Homo sapiens: one gene and its partners. The protein of the gene in region 2 interacts with the protein of the main gene of each other region in a pairwise test. Each region holds a gene or a part of one and is shown on either strand. Other genes may lie near its edges. The genes, in order: PLG, RBBP6 and ACOT13.

Region 1 (10,365 bases), on a different chromosome or scaffold from region 2:
CCATTGACTGCTGCCTGTTTACACACTGAGAGTGATGCATTCATTCTTGATTCAATCAGAATTAGTCAGATTTGCAAACTCATCAGGAAGAAATGGAGGAAGAGGGAGTCCTTTGAGACCAGGACTCTTCTACCACATCAGCTGCATTAAAATTAAACAACTGGGAGAGATTGTTTTTGGCTGGTGAAGGGTGGTGGGGTGGTGCAGGATTGTCCCAATGGGGAGCAAGGAAAATCAATATCCAACTAATATATAAACATGAGGAATTCTACCAACAAAAATTTAAGTTACACAAATTCTAATTTTTTTCTGTTTATAAATTTTCATAATGAAAAGTTGGATAGATTAATTATACCTAGTCCCCACACTTGAAAAAATCTAGAAGTATGGTTTACTGTACTACAAATTAAGCACATTGATTGTGATCCATGGTTATTTACTCTAAAAAAACTAGTTCGTGCTAAATTACTGAAACCTGTTAGTATATTCCCTTCTAAAACTGCACTGGATTATTCTATCATTTCTGCTGGGTTCACATCAGCAGCTGATTTCCAAACATATGTTAATTCAGCAGAAATTCATAAAGAGCTTAAATACTGTAATGCTAACTAACCTCTGTCTAGGGTCTGAAAGCAAGTCAAAAAATTAGCCTGAAGTGATTTTTGTTACCTTTGAGTTGGGTTTTCATCAGAAGTTAGGTATGTGTATTTGATCAAAACCAGCTATGCTATTAAATAATAACAGAAGACCTTCCTCTAACTAGTTGCATAATCTTTCACGAAGACTTTCTCCTTTCTCCTTTGTTTTTTCAGTCCACATTCCTATAAGTGTGGCAGGAATAAAAAAACTCCAGTTTCCAGCTCTCACCTTTGAGGCCCCTGACAGAGGGAAGGAAGGAGCTATCCAGGAGCTGATCCTCCTTGCAAAGCTGTCCTTGCAGAGATGCACGTGTGCATTTCAGCTACATTATGCCACACTGTTGTAATACTGTATAAAGACCTCAATCTATCCAGAGTATTTTTATATAATGTTGGATGAGTTAGGATTATTTGTAGTGCTGTTGAAGTTTCTGGGAACACATAATATGTAGCTGGCTTAAAAAAGAGCCTCTCAGGTGCATGGCTCTTCCTGGTCTCTGATTCATTAGGCTAAAGAGAGACGAGAGAAGCCCCCCACCCGATTCTCATAACAGCTCCATCAAGAATGCAGGATTTGAAAACCAAGGATTTGGGAAATTTGTGCAGAAATGTTCATCAAATCTGATCAGTCAAGGGACTAAGCCCATAACCGAGCATTTGAAAAATTGCAGGGAGGATGAAAATTTGGGAATCCTGTTAATGAGGAGATTGAATCACAGGTTCCTGGGCCACAGAATGTGAGCATTCGTGTCCTCTGCTCACCTTGGTCTCCGCACGCCTTTGCAACATGAACAGGTCAGAAGTCTCTCCCATCTACCTTCTCTGTAGCATCTGGGGTTCCAGGCATGGTTTATGCCCCATTCCAGCAATAAGAACCAATCTGTTGTACAATCTGAGGTCTTGGTTCTGTTATTCATAAAATGATGCTGTGGTCCTGAGATTATTCGGGACATTTTTGGCTCTCCTTTAGTGGACACCTAGAGCCACAGATTTTCTTCTTTACTAAACAAATCCCATGGATTATGATTTCTGGGTCTTAGGATTTTAAAAATGAAGAGATATTTTTCATATATTTGTTAAGTTCAGTTCTGATGGTGCCCGTGGCCAAGAGTTAGAAACATGGACAGTTCCCATTCAGTCTTGGCACTTTGAGTTGTCTTGGGGAAAAGCTTACATTTTAATTTAAAAGAAAGGTCAATTATATCCATGCTTAACAGGATCAGCAGGAGCTTTATAAATGGCTTTACAGCGACTAATAAGGGCTTTGATCTTTCTTTTTTGTTATCGAGGCTTTTGAAATGTGGAACGTGTGTGTTCTGCTATGTATATTATATTCAATATCTTTTCAGATGCAGTCTATATTTTATGCTGAGCTTTTTAAATGAAATACTTTATGTGGACAGGCAAAACTGGTACCAAAGGGAATCCTTCAAAATGGGGAACAACATTTGTGTAAGGAGAACAGGTGACAACATATACGAAGTGTGTGCTAATTGTAAAATGAGAAACTTCATCCTTAAAGCACATCAGAATTGAATACAAATAATCTATTTGTCAATGAAATAAACACAGCTCTTTGAGGATTTGAGACTACATTCACCCTTTATTCACAGTCACTTGCAGTTTTGCTTTTCTCTGCATTTCTCTGCTGTAAGATGACTGTTGCATTGTTAAATTGTATTTTGAATGGATATTTTTGTTTGGTAACAATATTTTAAATGGTAAAACGTGTGCCTTTGTCCTTTCTCTTCCTTCTAAACATGTATCTCTCCCACAGGTCATTCTCCTGTGACCGTGTGTACTGCAGACTGTTTCAAAACCGGGCAGGCAATTAGCAATGGGAAATAAGTGGTCCACCTTCAATATTTGCTTGTTGTTCATTTACATGCTCTTGGCACCAATCCTAGACTCACGTGTGCCCCAGAATAACATTCAGACTCTCAGTTGGTCTTGTGTTACACATCCATGGACCGGTTCACTCCATCATATACAGCTCTCTGCTCCGTGTCCCCTGGGCTCAAGTCAAGCAGTCGGTGACAGATTTCATTCCCAATAACAGAATCGGTTTGCATGACTCCCCATACATGTTGCAGCTTTGAAAACATTCATCTCAGTGTCAGGAATAAAGACAGTAAAAATGCATGTCAAGCCCTCGTTAGCTGATGAGGTAAATGCGTGGACAACTTCTTGGCTCTCCCCTCTGTGACCTTGCAGCCTGCTCAGTCCTTTGTGCAGCTGTTCCTTATCAAAAGCAGCTAAATCCCCCCATCTGCCCATTTAAAAATTGGTGGGGTGAACAAAGAGCATGAAAATGTTGAAGACCAAAACCAAAATTTACTCAAATCAAAGTTAAGTACAGAGTTTATTTTTAACAAATGTCATAGCTATGTCACCTTACTACAGAATCCAGCAGTCAGAAAATAACACAAAAAATGCCGAGGTTTGGCGTAGCTGGTAGCTGGGGACAGTGTCTTCGTTTGATTACTGCCAGTTATTTCCAGCATGCTAAATCCCTACCCACGTTCCAGCCTCTAGGTGAGTCAGTGCGTCACTCTGTCTCCCGTCCAATTAATTATTTCTCATCACTCCCTCAATCCAAGTAACAAACCTTGAAACACGAACATAGACACCAGGCTTATTGGGGCGTGCACAGCCAAGACCCCAAGAAGTGACTCCTTGTAAAATGTATTTGTCCTTCTCGAAGCAAACCAGAGGACCTCCACTGTCACCCTATACAGAGGGAGAGAAAAATGCATGTGAGGGTTAGGCTGCCTGCCTTTTATTATGGGATGCCATCCTTCTACTATCCATATATACATTTTCCCAGTAATTGAAATCAGAAAGGAACTTATGAGCATATTACTCAAGCATCTGCAGTGCTTAAGTACTTAGCAAAATCTGTTTAGCGAAACCACACCACTTAGTTTTTCCGGGGGGTAGAAAAGATCTTTTGTGAATCCTGCACACATCCCTTCCTATGTTGGTGTTTCCTTTAGACTGGGCTAGCCTGGGCATCAGTGTAAAGTGTGTGCAGTTGGTCTCTGTCCTGTATCCTCTACCTCCTTCCCTACCGGAAAAGTCACCACTTTAGTCCCTGGCCACCAGCACACCCCAGGAGGGTGAGTGGCCTGAGGTAGTTATGGCACTTAAAACTCGCTTGCTACTGATTTGGAACTCAAGCCCCAAGACATCCCCTTAGATGATCTGAATACGCATTCAGGGACAGATCTAGGAAGTTTCTAAACAACACTTAGACTGGGGTCTTCGGTTGAAAATCCTTGAATTTGCCACCTGGGGAATGAAGTCTGAGGGGCTGAGACTGAGACAAGAGAGCACAAGACTAACTTTGGTCTCTTGATCTTTGCTTACCTGGCAACTGTCAGTGCCTCCGGCCAAATGCCCAGCACAGAGTTCGGTGGATTGGACTCTTCCATTCAGAAACTCATAGCGATTGCACACTTTATTCTCAATCACAGGGAGCTGGGCTTCCTTGAGAAGGCCAGCTCCAAAAGTACCTGTGTTTAAAAAGATGAAAGAAATGGCAACTGCACCCAAAACACATTCAGGAGGATATTCCAGAACAGAGCAGCGGCACTGGACCTCCTGTCTGTGAGGCTGCAGAACACGAGGCAGCTCCCAATGCCGCTGGAGTCTCTGACCCTGCAGAGTGTAAACATCATATATGATTCTGTGTTCCTGAGCCCTGGAATTAACAATCTGGGCTTTGTCGTGTTGGTTTGGGGTTGGTTGTTGTTTCTTTACTTTTTGCTTTTAAAACTATAAAGAATAATGTTTAAAATGTAGAGTCTGAAAAATGCAATTGCTATTTTTATATACTCTTTTTTCAGATGTTTTAATATGCTTCTTTTACTAATTACATCATAACACAAAATTTCACATCTTGATTTTTTCACTCATCATTGTGTCATGAGTTTTGTATAATGCTATGATCTTCATAACTAATATGTTAAGGGGAGCTACTGCTTAATGAACATGAGGTTTCCTTTGGGAATGAGGAAAATGTTCTGGAAATATGATGATGGTTGCACATGATTGTGAATGTACTAAATGCCACTCAGTGGTACCTTCCAAAATGGTTAAAATAGTAAACCTTATGTTTTGTATATTTTATTGCAATAAAAAAGAATAGTCATCATTTACCAAGAATTAACCTTTCCAGACACAAGCTTATAATGCGATGTATCTCACTTAATCCTCGCAATAGTCCTGTGAAACAGGCACTTTTATCATTTCTGTTCTACTGTTAAGGAAACTGAGGCGTAAGGAGGTTGTGTAGTTCAGCCTGAGCCTGGGTCTGTGGAGTCACTGCCCAAATGCTTCCTCCCCATGCGTGTTGGCCCCACTCTTGCTTCCAGCTTTCCACATCTTTGTTCATAAAGTTCATTCTTATTCCTTAACATTTTCTGAGTCTAAGTTCCCATAAATTACATAGACATATTTCTGTCTCCCAATAACGTTGCCAAATTATTTTCTAAAAGGGTGTGACAGTGTACCGTGCCACTAGAAAACAATCACTTCACCTCACTTGTATGAGTCTTCAATTTTTAAAATATTAGCTAATCTAATAGGTTGAAATTGTCCTGATTCATTTTCTAATTTACACTTCTTTGACAATTAGGGAGAGTGAACATTCTAGTTGTATTTCTGCCTTTGTGAAAAACTGCTTTATTTTCTTTGCCAAATTGAAATAGAATGTCTGCAAAATTGCCAGAGAAAATGCCGTTTTTCCAGATAGACATGCCCAGGGATGTCTCAGTGTCGTCACAAATAATCTAGTTTTCCAATTTTGCAAGCCCAGGTTTCATTAAAATTTTGCAAAACTCTTTGCTTTGCGAGCATGACACAGGTAAGAACCGAGGCACTCTCTCTTTCCCCAAAGCCTTCGACTGCATTTAGATCATTGTCTCGGGTTCAGAAAACCGACACTGAATCTGGAGTTTACATGAGCAGCATGGAAGAGGCTCATCCCAGCGCCTGGCTCCAGAGCCCAGCTCAGCCCTATCTGGGCAGAGCTGCAGGGAGGAAGCTCCTCTTGACTACCAAGCATTGGGCAGTGGGTGCATCACCTGGACTGTGTAGTTGTGTGAGGGAGCACCCTTCTCAAAATGTTTTGCTGAAAATTAAGTTAGGTGTCACTGCTCTGGGATCTGCTCTCTGAGCAAGGCAAACACGCTGATAAGGGGGAAAACCCACCATGAGTTGCTGGGAAATTGATGCAATCTGTGAGTAGGTGCTGCCTTCCAGTGGTAGATGTAGAGATGGCACCTCTGAGGGCAGAAAGGCCACAGGTGACCTGAGGATTGAAGCCCTCCCCGATGGGGCGTTGGGGAGAGGGCAACAGGGAAAGTCCAGCAGCAGGATCAGCTCAGTGATTGCAGATGATGGCTGACCTGGAAAAACCCCTTGGCCTCAACACCTCCAAACTCTGCGTTTGGAATATCCAAGTCAGGGAACATCTGGAAACATGAAGGGAAGAGCAGGAGAATTTCAACTTCCCTCTGAGAAGCAGAGAACACCCATTGCTTCAATGTCATTATTGACATGTAGAAAATTGAGGAGCAGGCCTGAGTTATGTTTTGTGACTCATCCTGGTGGTTGGCGGTGGGACTGAAGAAACAGTGAGTGGGCTCTGGGCTCAAGGTCCAGCTACAAACTGGTTATGTGATGTCTATTGTTAATGATAGTGATGGTGGTGGTGGTGGTGGCAGTGGTGGAATGGTGGTGATGATGAGGGTTGTGATAAGGGTGGTAGTGATGGTGGTGGTAATGATAATTGTGCTGGTAGTGAAATGATGGTGACGGTGATGGTGGTGGGTAGTAATGATCATGGAGGTGGTGGCGGTGGTGATGGTGATGGTACTGGTGGTGGTAATGATAATGCTAATGGTGGTGGTAATCATAATTACTATCATGTTGATAGTGGTGATGATGGTTATGGTGATGATGGTGGTGATGGTGGTGGTAGTGGTGGTGGTGATGATGGTGGTGGTGATAATGGTAGTGATGATAATGGTGATGGTGGTGGAATGGTGGTGATGATGGTTGATAATGATGGTGATGGTGGTGATGATGGTGATGGTGATGTTGATGGCAGTAATGATGGGGGTGGTGGTGGTGGTGGTGGTGATGATAGTGATGGTAATGTTAATGGTGATGGTGGTGGAATGATGAGAGTGATGGTGTTGGTAGTGGTAGTGATGATGATGGTGGTGGTGATAGTGATGATGGTGATGTTGAGGGTGACAATGGTGGTGGTGGTAATGATAATTGTGATGGTGGTGGTGGTGATGATGTTGGTGGGGATGATGATGGTAGTTGTGGTTGCAATGTGGATGGTGATGATGATAATGATGATCATGAGGCATAATCTTAATCCTCACAATGACCTTATATGTTGGTACAGGTGAGAAAGCTGAGGCTAAAAGAGATTAACTAACTGCTCAATCTCACAAGGAAGATGGGAGAGCCAGAACTCACACACAGATCTTTATGATTTTAGCTTCGTGCTTTCATCAGTTGAGGAATTGTAGAGGATCTGTTTGCTTTTTGGCTGCCCAGCAGCCTATCACACTATATCCTATAATCCTGTTGAGGGAACTACACTTTGCCCCCATCTTGGTATGAGTGTGGTCCTGCGTCCACCTCCAGCATGGAACAGCTGATGCAGGTTGGAGTTAATCAGTGACGGGTTTAGGGGCAGGCTGGTGACACAAGTTCGACCTCTCAGAGCTGGAAGACTATTGTTTGTGTAATGGGGAGAGTGGCCTTCCTTATTTCTTTTCCTGGCAGAGCCAGAGCCACCACAGCATCTGCAGCCACGAGAATGTCACATTTGTGCCCAAGAATAATGGACAGGGTCTGGGGCCATGATGTGAGCCTGCAGAATTTTCAGTTCACTAATGATTTCTCTTTTTTGCTTAATCCAACTTAAGTTGCATTTTCTGTCACTTGCAAGAAAGAGTCATGTTAGATACAACTCTATTCCATATTATTATCAGGAGCTGCCATGATGGACTTCTTAGCATGTGCTTGGTGCTTGGTGCACTTTCTTATTGTTTCTCCCCCAATAGCCCTGCAGCCCACATTTCAGCTGAGGAAACAATCAACAAGAGTTCACAACCCACCCACCCTTCCTCCCTCCCTCCCTCCCTCCCTCCCTCCCTCCCTTCTTTCTTTCGTTCTCTTTCTTTCCCTTTCTTTCTTTCTTCCTTTCTTTCTTTCTTTCTTTCTTTCTTTCTTTCTTTCTTTCTTTCTTTCTCTTTCTTTTCTTCCTTCTTTCCTTCTTTCCTTCTTTCTTTCTTTCTCACATAGAGTCTCACTCTGTCACCCAGGCTGGAGTGCAGTGGCACAATCTTGGCTCACTGCAACCTCCACCTCCCAGGTTGAAGCGATTCTCCTGCCTCAGCCTCCTGAGTAGCTGGGATTACAGGGGTGTGCTACCACACCCGGCTAATTTTTGTATTTTTAGTAGAGACGGGGTTTCACCGTGTTGGTCAGGCTCGTCTCAAGCTCCTGACCTCGTGGTCTGCCTGCCTCGGCCTCCCAAAGTGCTGGGATTACAGGCGTGAGCCACTGCACCCAGCCAGAGAGTTTATGACTTTTCTAAGTCCTGACAGCCAGTAAATGGGAGCCAGGGTTCTAATTCAGGTTAGTCTGTACCATCCCACACATTCTCTGAGCCTCAGGCTCCTCATTTGTAAACTAGGAACAATAATATGTAATTCATAGAGGTTTGCAGCATTTAAATTTTTAAAAATGCAAAACACTGGGAGCAGCCTGGCACACCCATAGGTGTTCCTCCTTTGCCAAGGTTCCTTTTACTTGGCCTCAATGCTCCCAGACCCAGCAGTGCAGAAAGGGAGATCAAGAAATCAAGGAGGTAAAGTTTTTAAATAGTAGGAAAAGCACAGGAAAAGGAAAGCCACTTTGAAATCATCTAGACCATTCGTTTTTAAATGTTTGATTAAACCAAGAAAACAAAAACAAACCTTTCTTCAAATGAAAACTTATGCAAAGGCTGATGTGAAAAACACCACTTGAAAATGCTGGGTTTTTGAATGAGGGGTTAGAGCTGAGTGGTACAAAGAGGTAACGTGCCTAGTCCAGGTCTATCTAGCTAGTGGCAAAGTCAGAACACACTTCCAGGGCTTCAGACTCCTAATGCCCTCCTAGCACCTCTGAGAAACTGCAGCAGGGATCCTAAGACAGTCTTAGTGTTTCAATGGCCAAGGGGACTAGGCTGATGGATATAATTATTGTCAGGGCATACTGCAAAGAGAAGAAAGAATCCCTAAAATGTATTACAGGTGCTGATACCATATCCTGCACAAGTGTTCCCTCTCTTGTTCTCATCCACACCCATCAACCAATACCAAATGCCATCCTAGACCTGGGGCCATGGGACCTGTCCGCCTCTCCCCCAGTTGTAGGTCCCCTGTTTAACACCATCCCACTTACATTAGACATGTGGGTATTTGGGAAGAAGACTAGTCTAATTATAACTTTTGTTGTTATTGTTTTACATTGTGTTAAGAAAGCCAGTCTGGCTAATTTCACATGAAAAATAATCTAACACTCTTAACTTGAGGGCTGGGTGAAAACCCCACTTACCCAGGGAAGCATACTCAGGAATGCTGAAATTATGGATTAAGAGACTCAAAGACCTTTACTGTTTTTTTGCTTGTTTTAGGTGTAGGGAAATATACAAATAAAAAATGGATCACACCCCAAAGCTTCAACACCAAAAATACCTTGCTAACATACCACACTATGAAACCAAAGACAAGAAATCAACTACAAATAAAGACCCTGCACAAGGCTTTGGCCCTGTAAAAACATCCAAAGAACAAGTCTATTGGCTGTATTCAACCTACACTGCAGTTAAAGGAACATAAAGGCCGGAGTGCCATATGTCCTCCAAACAACCACACTAGTTCTCTAACAAGGGTTCTTAACAAGGCTGAGCTGGCTGAAATGATAGAACTGGAATTCAGACTATGGATAGGAATGAAGATCATCAAGATCCAGGAGGATGGCAAAATCCAATCCAAGGAAATTGAGGATCACAATAAAATGATATAGAAGCTGAAAGACAAAATCACTGGTTTAAAAAAGAACCTAATGGATCTGACAGAGCTGAGAGCTGAGAAACAAACTGTAAGAATTTCACAAAGCAATCCAAGTATTAATAGCAAAATAAACCAAGCTGAGGAAAGAATCTCAGAAATGGAAGACTGGCTTTCTGAAATAAGACAGTTGACAAAAATTAAGAAAAAAGAATGAAAAGGAATGAACAAAGCCTCCAAGAAACATGGGATTATGTAAAAAGGCCAAATCTACAAATCACTGGCATTTCTGAAAGGGATGGGGAGAAAGTAAACAATTTAGAAAACATTTCAGGATATTGTCCATGAAAACTTCTTCAACCTTGCTAGAGAGGCCAATAGTCAAATTTAGAAAATACAGAGAACCCCTGTGAGATTCTATACAAGAAGATCATCCTCAAGACACATAATCATCAGATTTTCCAAGGTCAAAATGAAAGACAGAATGTTAAAGGCAGCTAGAGAGAAAGGACAGGTCGTCTACAAAGGGAACCCCATCAATCTAACAGCATACCTCTCAACTGAACCCGTACAAGCTAGAAGATATTGGGGCCTATATTCAATATTCTTAAAAAATATCCACCCAAGAATTTCATATCCAG
Region 2 (10,683 bases):
CAGGCACAGTGGCTCAAGCCTATAATCCCAGCACTTTGGGATGGCCTTGGGAGGCCAAGGCAGGAGAACACTTGGGCTCAGGAGACCAGCCTGGGCAACATGGCAAAATCCCCATCTCTACCAAAATAAAATAAAAAAAAATTACAATAAATTAGCCAGGCATGGTGGTGTGTGGCTGTAGTCCAGCTACTTGGGAGGCTGAGGTGGGAGGATCACCTGGGCCTGGTAGGTTGAAGCTGCAATGAGCCAAAATTGTGCCATTATACTCTAGCCTGTGAGGATGTGTCTCCAAAAAAAAAAAAAAAAAAGATTTAAGGGACCTAAACATGCACATAATTCCAAAACTGTAAGGAAATGTTTTACAGAAACATGGTAGATTAGGGATTTTAAAATTATAAGAATGAAATTAAGAAACTGGACCTTAACTGTGATAAAAAGATTACCATAGTTTTCTTTAGTAAATATGTTGAATATCGGTGCTAAAACCAAATGGCATTCTACTCAACTGCCTTGTGACATTGGATACTATTTCCCATAAAACTAGTTAAGTAGCTACCATCAATATCTCTTTCTCTCTTAATTTGAGGACTGCATAAAATACACATTTTCTCCCTCAAAGCTCCCTTTTCTTAACAAACCGAACATCAAAGCTTTCTCCAATAAAGGGCAGTTCACATAAATATAAAAAAGAAAATGTGCTGGGCAAAAACACATTCCTGGCTTTCTGGGTTTGAATTACGTATCATTTATTTCCTGGGCTAGGAAAAAAAAATTGGTTACACAAAGTCACAAAACTCTTAAATTTCCGGACAGGATTCTTTTAACTATAACTTACCCAGTCTAAAGTTGCATTCACATGCCTGTAATCCCAGCCCTTTGGGAGACCCAGGTGGGTGGATCACTTGAGGCCAAGAGTTCGAGACCAGCCTGGCCAGCAAGACAAAACCCCATCTCTACTAAAAATACAAAAAAAAATTAGCTGGGTGTAGTGGCGCATGCCTGTAGTCCCAGCTACTTGGGAGGCTGAGGCATGAGAATCGCTCAAACCAGGGAGGCGGAGGTTGCAGTGAGCTAAGATGGTGCCACTGCACTCCAGCCTGGGTGACAGAGTGAGACTCTGTTTCAGGGGAAAAAAAAAAAAAAAGCTGCATTCAATTGTTGGGTCGAAAAGATGGATAACGCCTAGCCCTAATGATTCGATTGTGTAATACTCCAGTAAAATATGAAACCTGAATATATGACGATTAAAATTGCCTTAATATCCTTTAATTCCATTCATATTGTCTCTCCTCTCATTCATAAATACTCAATATGTCAAGATGGCCCAAACTTCTTATAAACCCATCTGTTCTGTGAAATGTGACTGTTGTAGTTAAGGGATGCTTGTGAGGCACTTAAATAAAGCTATTTCTCAACTGTTCATGACCACCACCAGTTTTTCCTCTCCTTAGGCAGAGGATTACACATAGCTCCAATTATCAAAGGGTATGACACTTGTTTTTAAAAGGTGGGGAAGCAGACAGTATTTTCACATAATATCATTTGAGCAAATAAATTCTTCCTTAATATTTTTGAGTCATGATATGCCAGCACTGCTGTTCCTTAACCTAATACAATTATACTTAGGTCTGCATTGTAAATGGAAAACTGGTCTTCTACATGACAAGATTTACTCTACCTAAACTACAGGCTGGAGGTGGGGGACCTCCCATTTCAACTAAAAGAATCCATGTCACACCTTAAGTGTGATAAAAATTTAGTGACTAAAAAAATACCCTAACCTAATTGTAACTTCACTTCTTCTCATTCCATCAGTAACTTTTAGAACACCGAACTGCTAAAAAATACACATCAGCATTACTGATCTGAGAAAAAGAAACCAAAACAAGTTCAGAGTCAGGAAAGACTGCTTGTCACATTTATCTACTGTTAAGTTCCCAATATTATCAAAATACTTTTGAAAAGGAGAAAGAATCTAACGATTCTTATCAGTGGCTTATTTGTACTCTATGGTAGCAGCCTATTTTTCAGTACCTTAGTATCAACAGTCACGTAAAATCTAGCAACTACTACTTTAAAAAAAATCAGTACTTTTGATCTTCACCGAATTGATAAAGCTTAAGAGTAATGTGATGAACTAACAGTTTAACTACTTAATTGCCGTATTACTAATTCTGGAATTGACACACAAGACAAGAGCGGTGACATCAGAACATTTCAAGATCCAAAAACAATTCCAATACTGATTAAATCCTCAAAAATATTAAAGTTCAGATCCCTTATCCACAACACAGGCAAGCAACTCCAAATAAATAAATGCGAGGAGGGAGGAAGGCAGGACATAAAATTTGCCATCAAACTCCACAATGTTGTTAGGTTAGAAAATTGTTTTTTTGGTTTTTTTTTTGTTTTTTTTTTTGCTGATTGAACAAACAAGCTTTGCACAGGCTCTCCTGCCCTCCTGATGGAAAATAAGTTAGAAAACGCCCTAAGACAAGCACTCAAAGAGTCTAGATAGCTATCCCCCTCTCCTCCCTCCCTCATTTTAAAAAACAGCGAGAAGAATAATCAGGCTTCCACGTTTTGGGTTAGCCTGTTACAGATGACCCAAGTATGCAGAAATAAAATAAACCAGTGAAACTCCAAGGCCAACTGCTGCAAACCTTGGCTATCAATGAAAGTTGTATCCAAAGTACTAGAACGAACAGTCCCCACTAGAGACATAATGGCGGTTAGCTTCCTGCCAGGCACCTTCTAGCTAGTATCTCTCTCCAGCCACCAAATATCTTAAGACCAAGCGGCCCTTACCTTCTTTCGTCTGCGCATTGGTGATCTGCAGGTCGCAGTCGGCAGCTTTCAGCTTCTCTCTCCCCATAATCTGCTTCTTTAAGTCGCAGAGGGAGATGTGGAGCCCATCAAAGGTGACGGTATCATAGTTGAGTTTAGAGGAAAATTTATAATGCACACAGGACATGGTGCCAAGGGATTCCTAAGGTTCAGCGAGGAGACGTGGACACTCTCAATATACGTATATTTATAAACTTTAAGAGCAAAATATGTACACACAAAACACTCAAAGACACCGAAGGACCCTAAGGCCTCAGATTAAATACCCCCCAACCACAAGCAGGGGTTCGTCAGAACAATAATCCAGAGACCCCCCGATACTCAGAATCACTTCATGGGGGAGGAGGAGGACGAGGACGGGGAAGAGGGGAAATCGAGAATCCGCCAACGGGCACAATGTCACCCGGCTGGGTCCCCCTCGCTCATGCTAAGGGGCCGGCAGAGACGGGGGGATTGGCGGTGCAGTCAGTAGCGGTCAGTCCACACGTTAAGAGTCCGAGCGACCCCACGGGGTCAGGGGTCCATAGCGCGGCCGCACCTCCCGGCGGGTCTCTCTCTCCGTGGATTGGGGTGACCCAGGCCCCGGGAGAAGGTTGAGGGGAGAGGGCCTAGGCCCGGAGTCCACGAGCGGCCTCACGCCTCCTCCTGGCTTCCGGACGACCGGCGTCAGCTTCCCCAGGCCCAGGCCCAGGCCCCCACCGCACACAAACCCCTGGCGCCTGCTCCCCGGAGGCCACGAGCGGCCCCACGGCCTAGGCCGAAAACGCGCGGTCGGCGGAGGAGAGGCCTTCCCGCAGGCCGCCCCCGGCTCCGCCTCCCCCCGCCGCCGCCGCCGCCTCGGACACAAAGCCGGCGCTAGGCCTCGGCGAGGCCTCGGAGCACTTCCTCACCACCCCGGGCCCCAGCCGGCGGCCGGGTGGCTTCGGCGGACCCCGGGGACACCGCCGAGGCTCCCTGACGCTTCTTCTCGCCGGATCCTCCGCGCTTCGCTCGCCTTTCGTTTCCGTCGCCTTGAGGCCCGGAACCGCGAGAACACGCCCGCAAGCTGCTGGGCAGCGGCTAGGGCTTCTCCGGCTCCCTTTTTGTGTTGGCCCCCTGCCGCTCGGGGGCTCTCACCGAGCGGCGGCGACACCTCCAAGCCAGGTACTATGGCGGACGCGGCCTGGCTTCGGACGAGCGCCCCACTGCGGGGTCTCTTAAGCAGGGATTGCACGGGCGGCGCGCGCGAGGCGGGGCTGGCGTGCGCGGATAGGCGGGCCGAGAGGCGGGGCGGCTGACGTCACAAAGCGCACGGCCCGCCCACGTGACCCCGCGCTTTGTGACTCCAAAGCGCGGAAACTGAAAGAGCAGGGACAACGGGAAGAACCATCTGCTTCAAAAGGGAGGGGGGTTGCGCGTCAGGAGGACCGGCTCACAGGGAGGCTCGGTGGGGAGAGCTCGCCTTGCAGGGGCTGCGTGCAGTTTCCACTGCAAAGTGGCTTGCCTAGGGGTGGCCGGCTAACTCCCCCTTCCCCACAGGCCCCGTCAGCTCCTCTAAGCCTCCCAATTTAAGTGAGCATTATGGTTGCTACGCAGAAAACTATGGTTGCTATGCAAGCGCTCCCTAGCTGCTGCTTCCAATAAACTGGCTACCCTATACTCTTGACAAGTGGAAATCGTGGAGCAGCCGCTGCCAAGAACTGATAACAGCCACCAGCACCATACAGATTTATTGAGCTCTTACTATGTGCTAGGCACAGGGCTGATCGCATAACAACATTGCCAGGCTCAGCAGCCACGTTGTCTGGGTTGGATCCCTGGCTGTGGGGGCTCTAGATTTAACCCCTCTGTGCCTGGGTCTCCTTGGCTGTAAAATGCCATTAAAAATAGTACTTGGTTTACTTGGATTAAATAAATGCACATAAATCCATAGTCTAAGACCATGCCGGTGCATTGACGTGGCTCAATGCACCGAAATATTAATAGCTGTAGCTCAATAAATGTCAATTTAACAACAAAAACCCTACGTGGTCAACATGACATTATTTCCGATTTATAGATGATGGAACTGAAGCTAGCAATCATGTACTTTCTGAATTTGCAGAAGGGGATGCCTGCTCAGTGGCAGGGTCCCGATTCCATTCCTAAGCGCAAATGCCAGGAACAGTGACAAGAACCCCCTCAGTAGATTGGAATTTTTTTTTTCCTTTGGGCATGGGGACGTTATTACATTCAGAAAAAATCATAATATAATAAAATTACATTCATAAACGATAGTTATTATCGTTTACAATCCATGTTCCTCATCCTCTCTGAATTTTACAGGCTAGGCTCAGTGAATTTAGGCAACTGAGAATAAGATCCTATAGCCGAGAAGTAGCAGAGTTTCCCAGGGACTTCCTGCAAGCACACTCCAAATTCTTACTGAACTTGATTTAAAATTAATCACCATCCTGCCAGAAAAGCCTTCCTAAGGCCATCTTTTTAAAATAAGATGGCGATCTTTCTCTATCCCTTTAGTCTTTTCTTCCTAGCACTTGCAGATAGTTGACAGTTACACATTTACTTTTTAATTATCTATCTCCCCCAACCCCTACCTTCGGCTGACAATAGGAATCTTATCTTTATATTTGTTTTTGCTGTATCCTCAGCTCTTAGAACATAGTAGGTGCTCAATAAATACGTGCTGAATAACTGGATACATTTTTACGTGATCCATAGAGATGTCGTGGCAATAAAATTTTGGCCGTAGTCAAGGGCAGCTCTAGAGATACCATTACAATTTAACTCAACCACACACATCAGTACTTTTCATATATAACAAGTTTCTTCCACTTTTACCTCTTTGTTATTTCACCAAAAACTTATTGCTGCCAGGTCCTCTTCAGGTTGGTTGCTTTTTTCTTAAAAGCCTCTGTGTGAATGAAAGGGCGAGGGCTATCTCTAGTGAAAGAAAAACTCGACGAGAAAATTGCAAGCCGTCATGGAATTCACTCCGAAGCGGTGAATCTGTTCCTTTTGCCCGTCTGTGGCCGACCCCTTTATATACTGAATGCCTAATTTAATCAGCGTGGTGCATCATGGGATCTCAAAGTGGGCCACACCCTCAGGATATGACAGAGTGGATCATAACCTAATCTGCAGGGGGGGATGTCCTTGGAAAGAATGTTGTCTATTGGTCCAACCGTTCTCATCTGCCAAAAACTTTGTTCAACCTTGATATTCTCACTTACAGAGGCCTCACTTCATATCACATCAAACAGGTCAAAATGCATTCACCACCTGCAATAAGCCTATGACTTGAGTTGCCTGACTAATTGACACAATGCTACATTTGGTCCATTTCACTGAATTCCTTTACTAATCTTCATTTTGCAGTTTTCTTTTTTTAAAAAAAAAACTTTTTATTTTCTTTTTTCTTCAGTGAGCTGAATTGTAAATTTTGCCGTTTTCTTTGGGTAATATGGAGCTGGTCTCCCTGACGCTTCTCTCCCTACCAATATTTTTGTAAGCCCTGAAAAAGCCTTTTGTACTATCCTACAGTGAATGAAGCATTCCTGTCTAAGCTTCTCATAATGTAACAATTCTGGAGCTCCCATGTCCCAGGATTTCAAACCTTTGTCATTCTCAAACCCAGTATAGCCTCATACCATTGACCATAGACAGTTAGTAAACCCCTTAACTTATTTTCTTATGTCAAAATTCAGTTCCAGCAAGCGGAATTGGGAGATCCAAGGAGCTCTGCCTGCCTGCTGTCTGTAGTGAACTACTCAAGCTCAGGAAGTCGGAATGAGATCTATTTCATGGAGGCTGTTCTCTTTTTGTTTGTTTAATTATTAGTAGTATTATTTTGGAGTCCGGGTCTTGCTCTGTCACCCAGGCTGGAGTGCAGTGGTGCAATCACAGTTCACTGTAACTTTGAACTCCTGGGATCAAGTAATCCTCCTGCTTCAGGCTCCTGAGTAGCTGGGACTATAGGCTTGTGCCAACATGCTCAGCTAATTTTTAGTTTTTTCAGTAGTGTCAGAGCCTCACTATGCTACCCACCCTGGTCTCAAACTCACGGCCTCAAGCAGTCCTCCCGCCTTGGCCTCCCAAAGTGCTGGGGTTACAGGACTGAGCTTGTGCCTGGTCCCACGGAAGCTGTTCTATGCTTGTATATTGAATGTAATCTTAAAAATGCACTAACAAGGCCAGGCATGGTGGCTCACGCCTGTAATCCCATTACTTTGGGAGGCCCAGGTGGGTGGATCACCTGAGGTTAGGATTTCAAGACCAGCCTCGTCAACGTGGTGAAACTCTGTCTCTACTAAAAATACAAAAATCAGCCTGGCGCACTGGCGCACACCTGTAATCCCAGCTACTGGGGAGGCTGAGGCAGGAGAATCACTTGAACCCAGGAGGCGGAGGTTGTGGTGAGCCGAGATCTTGCCACTGCACTCCAGCCTGGGTGACAGAACGAGACTGTACCTCAAAAAAAAAAAAAAAAAAAAATAGTTCTAAGCCTCTGTGTTGTCAGTCCAATTCACAGAAGGTAGATACATCCCTTACATCACACTGTATTTTCTCCAGAGAGTTGATTGCTTTTATGTTGCCTTTCTATTTTATTTAATATTTCAGCCTACAGTTGTTGGGGTATTTTTTATTTTTTTGCAGTTTATGTAATACAGCCCATCGACCGGCAGGGTGCTGTGGCTCATGTCTGTAATACCAGTACTTTGGGAGGCTGAGGTGGGAGGATAGCTTGAGCCGGGGAGTTTGAGGCAGCAGTGAGCTATGATCGTGCCACTGCACTCCAGCCTAAGCAACAAAGGGAGAACCTGTCTCCAAACAAACAAACAAAAGTCCATTGACCTTTCTCCCTTTATGGTTTTTGCTTTTGCTTTGAGAAATGGCTTGTAGCCCACTCAGCACTCACCTTAGATATTTTTTTGCTATATTTCCTTCCAGTTTATATATAGCTTCATGATTTTAAACTCCATAATCAATCTGATTTTTTTTGGTATATAGGGTATAATATAGAATGAAGATCACTGTATTCCCTTTTTCATTGTGAAGTATATTGTTAATAAAGAGTCCATGAGTGGTGGCTCACACCTGTAATCTTAGCACTTTGGGAGGCCAAGGTGGGAGTATCACTTGAGCCCAGGAGTTTGAGACCAGCCTGGGCAATATGGCGAAAACCCATCTCTACAAAAAATTAATAACTTAATCAGGCATGGTGTCGCATGCCTATGGTACCAGCTACTCAGAAGACTGAGGTGGGAGGATTGCTTGAGCCTGGGAGGTTGAGGCTACAATGAGCTGTGATTGTGCCACTGCACTCCAGCCTGGGTGACAGAGTGAGACCCTGTATCAAAAAATAAATAAATAAATAAATAAATAGAAAAGGGACAAAATATATATCTCGCTCTGTTGTCCAGGCTGGAGTACAGTGAGACAATCTCGGCTCACTGCAACCTCCACCTCCCGGGTTCAAGCGATTCTCTTGCCTCAGCCTCTCGAGTCACTGGGATTACAGTTCAGCACCACGCCGGACTAATTTTTGTATTTTTGGTAGAGACGGGGTTTCACCACTTTGGCCAGGCTGGTCTCAAACTCCTGACCTCAAGTGATCCACCTGCCTCGGCCTCCCAAAGTGCTGGGATTACAGGCGTGAGTCACCGTGCCCAGCCTTATTTTAATTTTTTTTAATGTTTATTTTTTGTCGGTACATAATATACTCTTTTTTAGAGCAGTTTCAGGTTCACAGAAAAATTGAGTGGAAAGTATAGGGTTCCCATATGCCCCTCTCCCCTCATACAGTTTCCACTATTGTTAACATTTTGCATTGATGTCATATATTTGTTAGGATTGATGAGTCAGTATTGATACATTATTAACTAAAGTCCACAGTTCATATTAGGGGTTACCTTTTGTGTTGTGCATTCTGTGGATTTTGGCAAATGTATAGTGACATATAAAAATTCCCCTGTGTCCTTCTTAGTCATCCCTCCTTCCTGTTGCTGACAAAGGGATCCCCATCCAGACCTCAAGATAAGGTTCTTGGATCTGGCACAGGAAAGAATTAAGGATGAGTCTCAGAGTACAGTGAGAAGAGATAGTGTATTGAAAGCTACTTCATTGCAGAGTAGGGCATCCTCAGAAAGCAACAGGACGAATGCACTGTCTTTATTTTAAACTCTTCTAATATAGGGTCTTATCTATGTAAAAGCTAAGCTGTGTCTATGTGCTAGTAGGCTGGCAGCATAACAAATTTATTACCTTGTTGATTTAAAGAAAATTATCCTTGGCATTTTAGTGCGTAAGTATATCAAAAAGCATGACTATAATGGTTGTAAAATCATATATTGTTATGAGAGATCGGGACATCTGGACATTTTGTTGTTGGAGGAGTTTGTCCTTGCAGGCATTACTAAGCTGTTTCTTCAGTTGTAAACATCTTATGACCATGAGCCGTGACCAGCAGGGAATGTGCCTTGCTAGTTTTAAGATGGAGTCTGTTTTAAAATGGTGACACTGGCCGGGCACAGTGGCTCACGCCTGTAATCGCAGCACTTTGGGAGGCCGAGGCAGGTGGATCACCTGAGGTCAGGAGTTAAGACCAGCCTGGCCAACATGGTGAAACCCCATCTCTACGAAAAATACAAAAATTAGCTGGGCATGGTGGTATGGACCTGTAATCCCAGCTACTCAGGAGGCTGAAGCAGGAGAATCACTTGAATCTGGGAGGCAGAAGTTGCAGTGAGCTGGGATCGTGCCATTGCACTCCAGCCTGGGTGACAAGGGTGAAACTCTGTCTCAATAAATAAATAAATAAATAAATAAGGTGTTACCCTGGCTCTCCTATGCTACTGTTTCCCCAACCCTCCCTTCCACCCCAGACCCCAAGCAATCATTGATTTCTTTACTGTCTCCATAGTTTTGCCTTTTCTAGAATGTCATATAGTTGGAATCATAGATGAAGTCATACAGCCTTTTCAGATTGGAGTAGTTCACACTTATGGATAAGCAGCAAGAACATAAGAAACCTCTATGTACCCTTTACTCAGATTCAGCAATTGTTTACCTTTTTTTCCCATTTTGGTTTTTTTTTCCTTTTTTTTTTTTTTTAGAGGCAAAATCTTGCTCTGTCACCCCAGCTGGAGTGCAATGGCACTATCATAGCTCAGTGCAGTCTTGACCTCCTGGGCTCAAGCAATCCTCCCACTTCAGCCTCTCGAGTAGCTGGGACTACAGGCTCCAGCCACCACACCCAGGTAATTTTTTTTTTTTTTTTTTTTTTTTTTTTTGTAGAGATGGGATCTCACTATGCAGCCCAGGCTGGTTTCAAACTCCTGGGCTCAAGTGATCCTCCCCCATCAGCCTCCAAAAGTGCTGGGTTTACAGCCATGAGCCACCGTGCCCCGTCTTGTCCCAGTCCTTTTTTTGTTTGTTTTTGAGACGGAGACTCACTCTGTCACCTAGGCTGGAGTGCAAAGGCGCCATCTCGGTTCACTGCAACCTCCGACTCCCAGGTTCAAGCGATTTCTCATGTCTCAGCCTTCCAAGCAGCTGGGACTACAGGTATGAGCCACCATGTCCAGCTAATTTTTTGTATTTTTAGTAGAAAAGAGATTTTGCCATGTTGACCAGGCTGGTCTCAAACTCCTAACCTCAAGTGATCTGCCCTCCCCCCACCCCTTGGCCTCCCAAAGTGTTGGGATTATAGGCGTGAGCCACCGTGCCTGGCCCCATTTTTTTTTTTAGTTAACCATTTGTCCCCTGCTCTTCTTCATATAGGTATATCTGGATCTCTCTGAAAGGATTTTGCAGACACGACGCCTCTTTATCCCTAAAAAAATCCATGTATATTTC
Region 3 (10,278 bases), on a different chromosome or scaffold from region 2:
AATCATAATTGTTACGTTAAAATTATTGTGTGCTACAGAGGAGAGGTATCAAATTTCCTTGTCAATTGTGTCTTTGCCTATGGCTGCCCTAAAACTTTTAGTCATCCACGCACAATTGTTGTGTTGTTTTGGTCCTCTTTAGAAAGTGTTTTTTTTTGTTGTTGCTGTTGTTGTTTTTTGAGATTCATTATTTATTCTTGATAATGTTTTCTTTGTTAAATTTGTTTTTTTAAATTATACTTTAAGTTCTAGGGTACATGTGCACAACGTGCAGTTTTGTTACATATGTATACATGTGCCATGTTGGTTTGCTGCACCCATTAATTCGTCATTTACATTAGGTATTTCTCCTAGTGCTATCCCTCCCCCATCCCCCCACCCCACGACAGGCCCCAGTGTGTGATGTTCCCTGCCCTGTGTCCAAATGTTCTCATTGTTCAATTCCCAACTATGAGTGAGAACATGCGGTATTTGGTTTTCTGTCCTTGTGATAGTTTGCTGAGAATGATGGTTTCCAGCTTCATCCATGTCCCTACAAAGGACATGAACTCATCCTTTTTTATGGCTGCATAGTATTCCATCGTGTATATGTGTCATTTTTTCTTAATCCAGTCTATCATTGATGGACATTTGGGTTGGTTCCAAGTCTTTGCTATGGTGAATAGTGCTGCAATAAACATACATGTGCATGTGTCTTTATCGTAGCATGATTTATAATCCTTTGGGTATATACCCAGTAATGGGATGGCTGGGTCAAATGGTATTTCTAGTTCTAGATCCTTGAGGAATCACCACAGTGTCTTCCACAATGGTTGACCTAGTTTACACTCCCACCAACAGTGTAAAAACGTAACTATTCCTCCACATCCTCTCCAGCACCTGTTGTTTCCTCTTGAATGCAGGTCTCCATTAACTTTGGAGATTGTTACATGAGAATAGAGGAAAAACTTTCAGAACTCATGGAGAGCTAAAATGCTCATGAATATCAAGCAGAATAGGAATTAACTAAGGGGACTGAACTAATCTTTTTGACTTTTTGCTTAAACATTGCTGATCTTTTGCTTTGTTTTTCAGAGCCTTGAAACTTTTCTTTTGAGCTATTGACAGCTTTTAACAATTTAGTATACTCCAATCAACAAAATTTGGAGCATATTTGTTTCTCTCTACCTGATTTCTCCAGAATTTGTAAACTATTTGTGAGTATTCTTAACTTGTGCCAATACAGTTATTTGCATAAGTGCAGTAAGAATCTGTTTTCATTTGTAACAGGACACAGTTGGAGAAACTGATTATTTTACCAAGGCTTTGAGTGGAAAGGTGTACTTTCCTTTAAGTAATCAAACCTGACTTATGGAGCCAATAAAAGCCCTTGGGAAAACTGGCCTCACACTTTACAAAGTCCCTGTACAGGGTTTCTGATATGTGCTAAGTAAAGAATGTCATTTTCTGACAGGTCCAGGAGCCCCTGGTTTATCATGGAACATCAAAAAGAGGAAATTCACCCTACTCATAGGTATTTGATGGTACAAATCCATGGCTGAGCTTGGCTTTAAAAAGAATCTTATCTGAGATTCCTTCTATGGAACAAAGTTCCTTCAAAGCCAATTTTAAAAAGCCTATGTGAAAAATAATTATTCTTGCTACACTTTATATAAATAATCTGGTCAAATATAATAAAGCAAATCAGTCCTACCATGATTTGTCTTTAGTAAAAATGGAAAACTGGAGAGAGAAAAATTGTTTCAAAACTTACAGTCCACTTGTTGTTAGATACTAGTCTTGCCTAATTTTTTCAATTTTTATTATTTTCTACAGTTTAGGCTGAATTCTAATTTTTCCTGGCTACAAGTCTCCAAAATAATATTTTTAATTTTTTTCTTTTCTTTTCCTTTTTTTTCCTAATTAGGAGTCACTGAAAACAGCTGTGCTTTTGTAAAGCCCTGCAAACTGAAGCTAGACAACTTAAACTTCAGAAGAAAATAACAGCAACCTATTTACACGCATAAGCCACTTTCATACCTGCCTACTGATGTATGGACTTCAGAATAACGTGGCCTATGTATATTTTCCAGGATTGTTCTTTTGTTTGTTGTTTTTCACCCTTCCTCCCCCTATTTTCTCTTCACAAGACATGGGAGTTCACAGCCTTCTAAAAATTAGCTTTCCTAATAACTTGGGACTTACCTGTCTAGGAATAAACCATCCTAGCATGAGCGATCAGATGAAATCTGGGACCAAAGACTCATTTTTCTTCTAAAATGCTTTCTCCAAAAAAAAATTTTTTTTAAAAAAAAGAAAAGGGGGCAAATGTAAAGGAAAATATCTTGGGCCCCCAAATCACTAAGTTAAAAGGAAAATTCAAGCTAGGAACTACTTAAGACAAACTTGCCTCCCATTCTATTCAAAGTCATCCCTCTGCTCATTGAGATAAATGTGTATCTGACTGCCTCCTTAGGAAAGGTAAATCAGAAACTCAAAAGAATGCAACCATTTGTCTCCCACCTACCCGTGACCTGGAAGCCCCCTTCCCGCTTCAAGTTGTCCCGCCTTTCCGAACCCAACCAGTGTTCATTTTACATATATTGATTGATGTCTTATATGTCCCTAAAACGCATAAAACCAAGCTGTGCTCTGACCACCTTGGGCACATGTTGTCAGGACCTCCTGAGGCTGTGTCACTGCGTGCGCATCCTCAACCTTGGCAAAATAAACTTTCTAAATTAACTGATACCTGTCTCAAATTTTTGGGGTTCACAAGGTTTAGTTATAAATGCTTCTTATGGAGCATGATTTTCTTACAAGCGAGGCAGGAGAATCGGATCTGGAGGCAGGGAACCTAGGGCTGTTTCACGCTGACTTCCTAGAACTAAATTGAAAGTAAAACCCTAACTTCCCACACCAAGTAACAAAAGAACCAGAGGCTTCTCCCTTTCCAAACCCCCACCTTTTCTGTGTGGCAGATGGGAAATTGAAAGTACCTCTGATTGGTTGCAAAAAGCAAAATTACGCTAAGAAGTAAGTTATCCCTTAAAAAAAATTATTCTTTCTGCAACCAATCAGATCTTCCCATAGGAGTGTAACTATGTAACTTCACCATCTGATTGCACGCCACGTCTTCGTTTGCATATAAGGGCAACTTTGTAACTTCACTTTAGCCTTTCATTGGTTGCTTTTCACAGCCAATTGTGGGTCACCACTTCATTTACATGAGATGAGTACCAAGTGGCCAATAGGAGACTTCAATGGGGTATTAGGGCCCCTGAGCTGCTGCTCCACACCCCAAACACAGGAGTGTCCTTTCATTTTCAGTAAATCCCTGCTTTTGGCGGGGCATGGTGGCTCATGCCTGTAATCCCAGCACTTCGGGAGGCCAAGGCAGGTGGATCACCTGAGGTCAGCAGTTTGAGACCAGCCTGACCAACATGATGAAACCCTGTCTCTAATAAAAATAAAGAATTAGCCAGGCTTGGTGGCGCATGCCTGTAATCATCCCAGCTACTTGGAAGGCTGAGGCATGAGAATCACTTGAACCCAGGAGGCGGAGGTTGCAGTGAGCCGAGATCGTGTCACTGCACTCCCGCATGGGCAACAGAGCAAGACTCCATCTCAAAACAACAACAACAACAAACACCTTCAAGGTCTGGCGTGGCGGCTCACACCAGTAATCCCAGCACTTTGGGAGGCGGAGGCAGGCGTTTCACCTGAGGTCGGGAGTTCGAGAGCAGCCTGACCAACATGGAGAAACCCTGTCTCTACTAAAAGTACAATATTAGCTGGGCATGGTGGCGCATGCCTGTAATCCCAGCCACTCGGGAGGCTGAGTGAGGCAGGAGAATTGTTTGAACCAGGGAGGTGGAGGTTGCAGTGAGCCGAGATCGCGCCATTGCACTCCAGCCTAGGCAACAAGGGCGAAACCTCATCCTAAAAAAACAAAAACAAACAAACACCTTCGGGCTTTGTGAGTGCTGGTCTCAGAAAAGCACTCAGTCTTCCTCCAAGGGCTAACTTACTTCTTCAGGAGTTGGGTGCCTTTGAGAAATTTCCCAAACCACTACAGAGGAACAACTTCTCCCTTCGTTCACCACTCTACCAAGCACTTGGCTTTTGTACCTTATTGCAATTATTTATCTTCTAATCTTCTAGAGCCTAGAGAATTAGACTGTAATGTGCCTTAAATGCAGAGGTTTCTCTTACTCTTCTCTGGAGCAATGCAGACGTTTGTTGGTTGAAGGATCAAACTCCAAAGTCCCTCCCAGCCTTGGAACTGTCTCCACGAGTCATAACCATACTTATCTATGTTTAGATAGAGAACTTACGCGTTCGACCCAGCATATTTAGGGGCTCCATTAAAGTAATAATCATTATTACTAAGGTGAATTTACAGGCGTACTAGAACACAACCTAACAAGAGATAATTATTCAAAGCTCACAACGGCACCAAGCACGGTGCTTTCTTTTCCTTCATTAGAAGCCACGGCTTCTCCCCTACCTTTCCCATACCTTTCCCAAAACTCTCTCAAAATTGCGAGCCTTGGTCATGGCCTTTATCACCTCCCGCAGAGACTGAGTCATGCTGGTCATCGTGGACGGTTTTCCAGCCTTTGGGCTTTGCGCAAGAACGAACTTCGGAAGAGCTGGAAAGTCCAGAAGTTAGTGAAAGAAGGAGGACACAAAGGGCGAAGAGCCCGCACCCTTCTCCGCCCCTAGGAGCGCAAGAGGCCGGGAGTCAGGCGAGCTGGCAGCCCCGGTGGTCCGCGATTTGCTCACTGACTTTCCTCGCACCCTTGTGACGAAGCGCGCATGCGCGCTTCGCACCCACCGCCCCGGCGGCTCCCTTGCGGCGCAGCTGCACCAGTTTTCCGAGAGCAGCGCATTTCCCCGCCGGGCGGTTGATGCGGGAGCGCCATGACACAGGCGCCTGCGCAGAGCCGCGCGTTGGCCTCCTGTTCCGCTTAAAGGGGCGGTGCAGAGGCGGCAGGAAGATGGAGTTGGGGAGTTGCCTGGAGGGCGGGAGGGAGGCGGCGGAGGAAGAGGGCGAGCCTGAGGTGAAAAAGCGGCGACTTCTGTGTGTGGAGTTTGCCTCGGTCGCAAGCTGCGATGCCGCAGTGGCTCAGTGCTTCCTGGCCGAGAACGACTGGGAGATGGAAGTACGCTTTCGCTGTCCTCGCTTCCGGCTCCATTACCTAGGTCGGTGGAGCGCACAAACCTCATCCCTTGTGCCTTTGTTTTTCAGAGGGCTCTGAACTCCTACTTCGAGCCTCCGGTGGAGGAGAGCGCCTTGGAACGCCGACCTGAAACCATCTCTGAGCCCAAGACCTAGTAAGTGATGAGGGGAGCGGGAGCCAGTCCGCACGGAGGCAGTTTGATACCAGGTAGCCCTGCGCGTCCTGGGACCTGCCGTGGAGCTGGGCGGACGATGCTGAGGCAGATCTCCAAGCTGCGTAGCCAGAGGAGCAGGGCTTGCGTTGCTGCTGCTGCGCGGAGTTGCGCCCCAGCAGCGGATCTAACACTGCACCAGACTGTCGCTTCGAACGTGATTTGGGGTCCAGGGAGGAAAAGATGGAAATGTAATGTTTAACTCAAATGAAAGGAAATAAGTAAGCGAGAGGTTTGAAACAAATGAACGAAGGCTAAACCTTCTATCGAAAAATGGCAACTTGGAAGTCTCCTTGCTTCCTGTATTGTTTATTTATTCTAGGCCCTAGGCTGACCGGCCAGAATAACAGGTTTGTTGTTGTTGTTATTTTTTTTTAATGCACACCTACTCCTGTTATTTCAGTGCCCCTCTCCAGTTCCTGCACTTAAAAAGTGTAGCTGCCTTACAAGGCCCTCTACTATTTGGCTCCATAACTTAGAACCTGCCTTTCCAGGTTCCAGGCCTATCAAACTTTTACTTTTTTCCAACGGGTCATTTTCTCCTGTCTTTGAAACTTCGTAAAGATCTTTATTACCTGTGCCTGGAATTTTTTTCTTTTCCCTTCCTTGCTAATATTTGTCTTAAAGCCCCAAGCTGAGACATGATTTATCTCTAGGAAGCTTTTCCTGATGTCCTAAGTCTGGGTAAGAGTCCCCTTTTAGGTACTCTTATAGCATCCTGCATGACCCCTGTTACAATACCTTAGTCCGTATTATAATTGCTGTTCATTATTTTATGTCTCCTACTAGACTGCACATCTAGTAAGGAGTATCTGTTTTGTACATTGTTAATTTCCCAAAGTCTGACACAACATTTGACACATAATAAGCTCCCAATAAATATTTACTGAATGTATAAAATTCTCCCAGCTATATGTACAACCTGTAAAATTGACTGTTCATAGTGGAGACTTTATTTTCCCTTTGGTCTTTTCAGCTACACTGGCTTACAGATGTGATAAGATATTTTCTTTAGGTTCCTTTCTCTGTCTTGCCTCTTGTTGGGGAATTGTTTACTCACCCACAGTGATTTGTCTCTGGCTCCCGTTTTACTAACCAGAGCAAGTTGGACTAGGAGGTGTTTGCCTAGCTCAAACTGGCCAGTCAGATCCTCTCCTTGGTTTCAGAATTAGGACCAAGAGAGTCAAGTCTGAGTCTTCCTATGGAGCTGGAACTGTAACATGTTAACTTAGCACCTGTGAGGATTCATACATATCTTTTTTTGTGTACAGAGAAGCTGAGAACAGAGGTCTGCAGAGAGACAATGAAGCAGAGGGAAGTTGAAGTGTAGGATTGAGAGAAAGCCCTTAACTGCCCTTCCTTAAACATGGCTGTATTTCTGTACCAGGCTCTGTGACATGTTTGTTTCCTTATAAATTCTCCTGTTTTGGTCAAACCAACCTGAGTTAATGTCTGTTGGTTGCAACAGACTATATTGTAACCAATAAATAGTAACAAAATAAGTGGATTTCCTGTAATAGGCCCTCAGAAAAGATGCGGATCAAGCTGATCAATGGTGTCATGGCTATTAGGATTCTCTTACCCCGGAATGGTAAATTGGCAAAAACAAGCAAAGGTGTTGATTAGGCTGTGGTCTCTTGTCTCTCAGAACTCAGGTCAAGTATGAATGAGAGTGAGGTTTTAAAGTTTAGTTTGCTCAAGAGAGAAAAATGGGGAAGGGGCAAACTTCAGCGTGTTTCTAAGGCCTGTGACCTGATTAGATTTTTGATGTTGGCTTTAGCAAAAATGAAAGGGAAAAAAAAATTGATTGGAAGATTTTATGACCAGAAAAACTCAACCCTGCTGAGCAAGGGCATTGGCTGTCTTAAATGAATGGCGCAGGAATCTCAATTCTGGAGTGAATTCCTGGGATATCAACAAAAATTGAAATTGAACACTAAAGTGATTTAGTCCCCTACATTAGAATCTATCTTCAGTGTCTCTGATGAGAGACAAGGGAAATCCTCTTAAAACAGCTATGCTGAATCTTAGCTGCATATTGGAATTATCTGGGGAATTTAAAAAAAAAACCAGAGATTCTAATTTCATTAGTCTTGAGTGGGGCCCATTATTCCTTATTGGCTTTTTTTTTTTTTTTTATTAGCTGTGCAGGTAATTCTAATGCAGAGCCAGCATTGAAAGCCCGTGTCCCAGAGCCTTGTTATTTAGAGTGTGGACTCTGGACCAGCAGCGTGCCACTGCTACTCGGGAATTTGTTAGACATGCAGAATCTTAGGTCTCACCCAGACCTACTGAATCAGAATCTGTATTTTGACAAGATCTCCAGGTGATTTAAAATTGAGGAGCACTGGCCTAACACATAAAACCTAAGACACCAGATATACTGACAAAAGCACTTCCTCCTCTGCTTAGGAATGAAGTCAACAAATCATGCCCCTAAAGTTTGCCAGTCCCTTTCTGTTCCCTTAGTATTTCTGTACAGCAACGTTTTAGAGTTTATTTCCCTTTTCATTTTTCCAAAAGGAAATTTTTAATACAGTTGCCTGGTTTTTCTTGCTGCATTAAATATTAAATATTGTGGGTGTTGCATAAATTGCAGAGATATTTGTATTAGGTTCTTGTGTTGCTATAAATACCTGAGACTGGGTAATTTATAAAGAAAAGAGATTTAATTGGCTAACAGTTCTGCAGGCTCTACTGGAAGCATGGCCCCAGCCTCTGCTGGGCCTCAGGAAGATTTCAATCATGGCAGAAGGGAAAGGGGAGCCCAGGTATCACATGGAGAGCGCAGGAGCAAGGGGGTGGGGTGGTGCCACATACTTTTAAACAACCAGATCTTGCAAGAAGAACTCAGTATCGTGAAGATAGCACCAAGACATTAATGAGGGATCTGCCTCCATGACCCAAACACCTCCCACTGGACCCCACTACCAACATTACGGATTATATCTCAACATGAGATTTGGAGGGGACAAACATCCAAACTATATCAATATGGAATTGGATTACAATGAAACAGAGGAGGAAAGGATGGCATAGTGAATAAGAGCATGGACTCTGGAGCCAAAATGCAAAGGTTATAAGTCCACCTGTGCTATTTAGTAACTGTGTAACTTCTCTCTGCCTCAATTTCTTTGTGCAGTGGGGATAGTAATATGGTTCTGAGTCTACCTGTGCTATTTAGTAACTGTGTAACCTCTCTCTGCCTCAGTTTCTTTATCTGTGCAACCCCTTCCTCATGGGGTTGTTGTAAGGATTAAGTGAGCTAATAGATGTAAAACACTTGGAATTGTGCCTGGCATATAGAGCTCAGTAAGTATAAGCTATGATTAATGACACCATCATGCTCTCCCCATACATCACCCATGACAGTCCACCTGTTGAGGAAAGTAGGGGTTGTGTTTACAGTTTTATGAGGTAGATTGAGTTATAGTTGGATATCTTTAAACTTGGAAAAAAAGGTGTGTGTGCCGGATAGGTAAGGGGCCTGATGTGATGAGCAAACACCTTTGTCTATGATAGTATATATATTTTTAAATTCAGCTATGAAACAGAAGATTTGACAGAAATAAAGAGCTAATAATTTCTCCTTTCTGGTTTTAATGCTTTTCATAAAAAGGAAATAACATCTTTGATCAGGCATGGAATCACTTGGCTTTTTCTCTCTGGTGGTAAGATGAAGGGGGCCAGCCCCTCCACACCTGTGGGTATTTCTCTTCAGGTGGGACGAGAGACTGAGAAAATAAATAAGACGGAGAGACAAAGTATAGAGGAAGAAAAGTGGGCCCAGGGGACCGGCGCTTAGCATACGGAGGATCTGCATGGGCACTGGTCTCTGAGTTCCCTCAGTATTTATTGATCACTATCCCCATCTCGGTGAGGGGGATGCGACAGGACTAGAGGGTAATGGTGGAGTCAGCAGGAAAACGTGAGCAAAGGACTCTGTGTCATAAATAAGTTTAAGGAAAGGTGCTATGTCTGGATATGCACGTAGGCCAGGTTTATGTTTGACTTTACACAAACATCTCAGTGCAATAAAGAGTAGTATTGCCGCCAGCATGTCTCACCTCCAGCTATAAGGCGGTTTTCTCCCATCCAAGTAAATAGAATGTACGATCGGGTTTTATACCGAGACATTCCATTCCCAGGGACGAGCAGGAGACAGATGCCTTCCTCTTTTCTCAACTGCAAAGAGGCCTTCTTTCACTAATCCTCCTCAACACAGACCCTTTTTGGGTGTCGGGCTGGGGGACGGTCAGATCTTTCTCTTCTCATGAGGCCATTATCTCAGGCTGTCTCAGTGGGGGGAATCCTTGGACAATACCCAGGCTTTCTTGGGCAGAGGTCCATGTGGCCTTCCGCAGTGCATTGTGTCCCTGGGTACTCGAGACTGGAGAATGGCGATGACTTTTACCAAGCATACTGCTTGCAAACACAATTTTAACAAAGCACATCCTGCACAGCCCTAAATCCATTAAACCTTGAGTCAATACAGCACATGTTTCTGCGAGCACAGGGTTGAGGCTAGAGTTACAGATTAACAGCACCTCAAGGCAGAAGAATTTTTCTTAGTACAGATCAAAATGGAGTTTCTTATGTCTTCCTCTTTCTACATAGACACAGTAACAGTCTGATCTCTCTTTCCCCCACAGTAAGACGTTGAAAAAAAGTCTAATAGCTCATTGTTGAATAAGAGAACTTTTGGGTAGGATGAAATTCACAAAAGAAAGTTTTGCACTTTTTTTTTATGCTCTTGAAGGTTATTTTTATGTAAAAGGGAGACAATTCAAAATATTTTATGCTACAAAATTGACATTAAGTTCATCTAGCACCCAGATCATGGCCTTTAAATACAATTCTTCACTGAAAGGAACAAGGGCTTTTCAGAAATGACTGATTTCA

What was found.
Region 1: the proteins of RBBP6 (region 2) and PLG interact in a two-hybrid assay, tested with the Homo sapiens proteins (one study listed by BioGRID and IntAct).
Region 3: the proteins of RBBP6 (region 2) and ACOT13 interact in a two-hybrid assay, tested with the Homo sapiens proteins (one study listed by BioGRID and IntAct).

Annotation. Positions count from the first base shown.
Region 1 is NC_000006.12:160,745,903-160,756,267, reverse strand, and holds the end of PLG (plasminogen isoform 1 precursor), read right to left. Parts: intron 4,154-10,365; coding exon 4,008-4,153; intron 3,369-4,007; coding exon 3,207-3,368; 3' UTR 2,171-3,206; downstream 1-2,170. UniProt on the Homo sapiens protein: Plasmin dissolves the fibrin of blood clots and acts as a proteolytic factor in a variety of other processes including embryonic development, tissue remodeling, tumor invasion, and inflammation. In ovulation, weakens the walls of the Graafian follicle.
Region 2 is NC_000016.10:24,532,918-24,543,600, reverse strand, and holds the start of RBBP6 (E3 ubiquitin-protein ligase RBBP6), read right to left. Parts: upstream 4,036-10,683; 5' UTR 2,975-4,035; coding exon 2,809-2,974; intron 1-2,808. UniProt on the Homo sapiens protein: E3 ubiquitin-protein ligase which promotes ubiquitination of YBX1, leading to its degradation by the proteasome.
Region 3 is NC_000006.12:24,661,567-24,671,844, reverse strand, and holds the start of ACOT13 (acyl-coenzyme A thioesterase 13), read right to left. Parts: upstream 4,769-10,278; 5' UTR 4,582-4,768; coding exon 4,501-4,581; intron 2,729-4,500; exon of another isoform or gene 1,907-2,728; intron 1,197-1,906; exon of another isoform or gene 1-1,196. Other genes in the region: TDP2 (tyrosyl-DNA phosphodiesterase 2), read left to right, coding at 4,983-5,147, 5,234-5,319. UniProt on the Homo sapiens protein: Catalyzes the hydrolysis of acyl-CoAs into free fatty acids and coenzyme A (CoASH), regulating their respective intracellular levels. Has acyl-CoA thioesterase activity towards medium (C12) and long-chain (C18) fatty acyl-CoA substrates.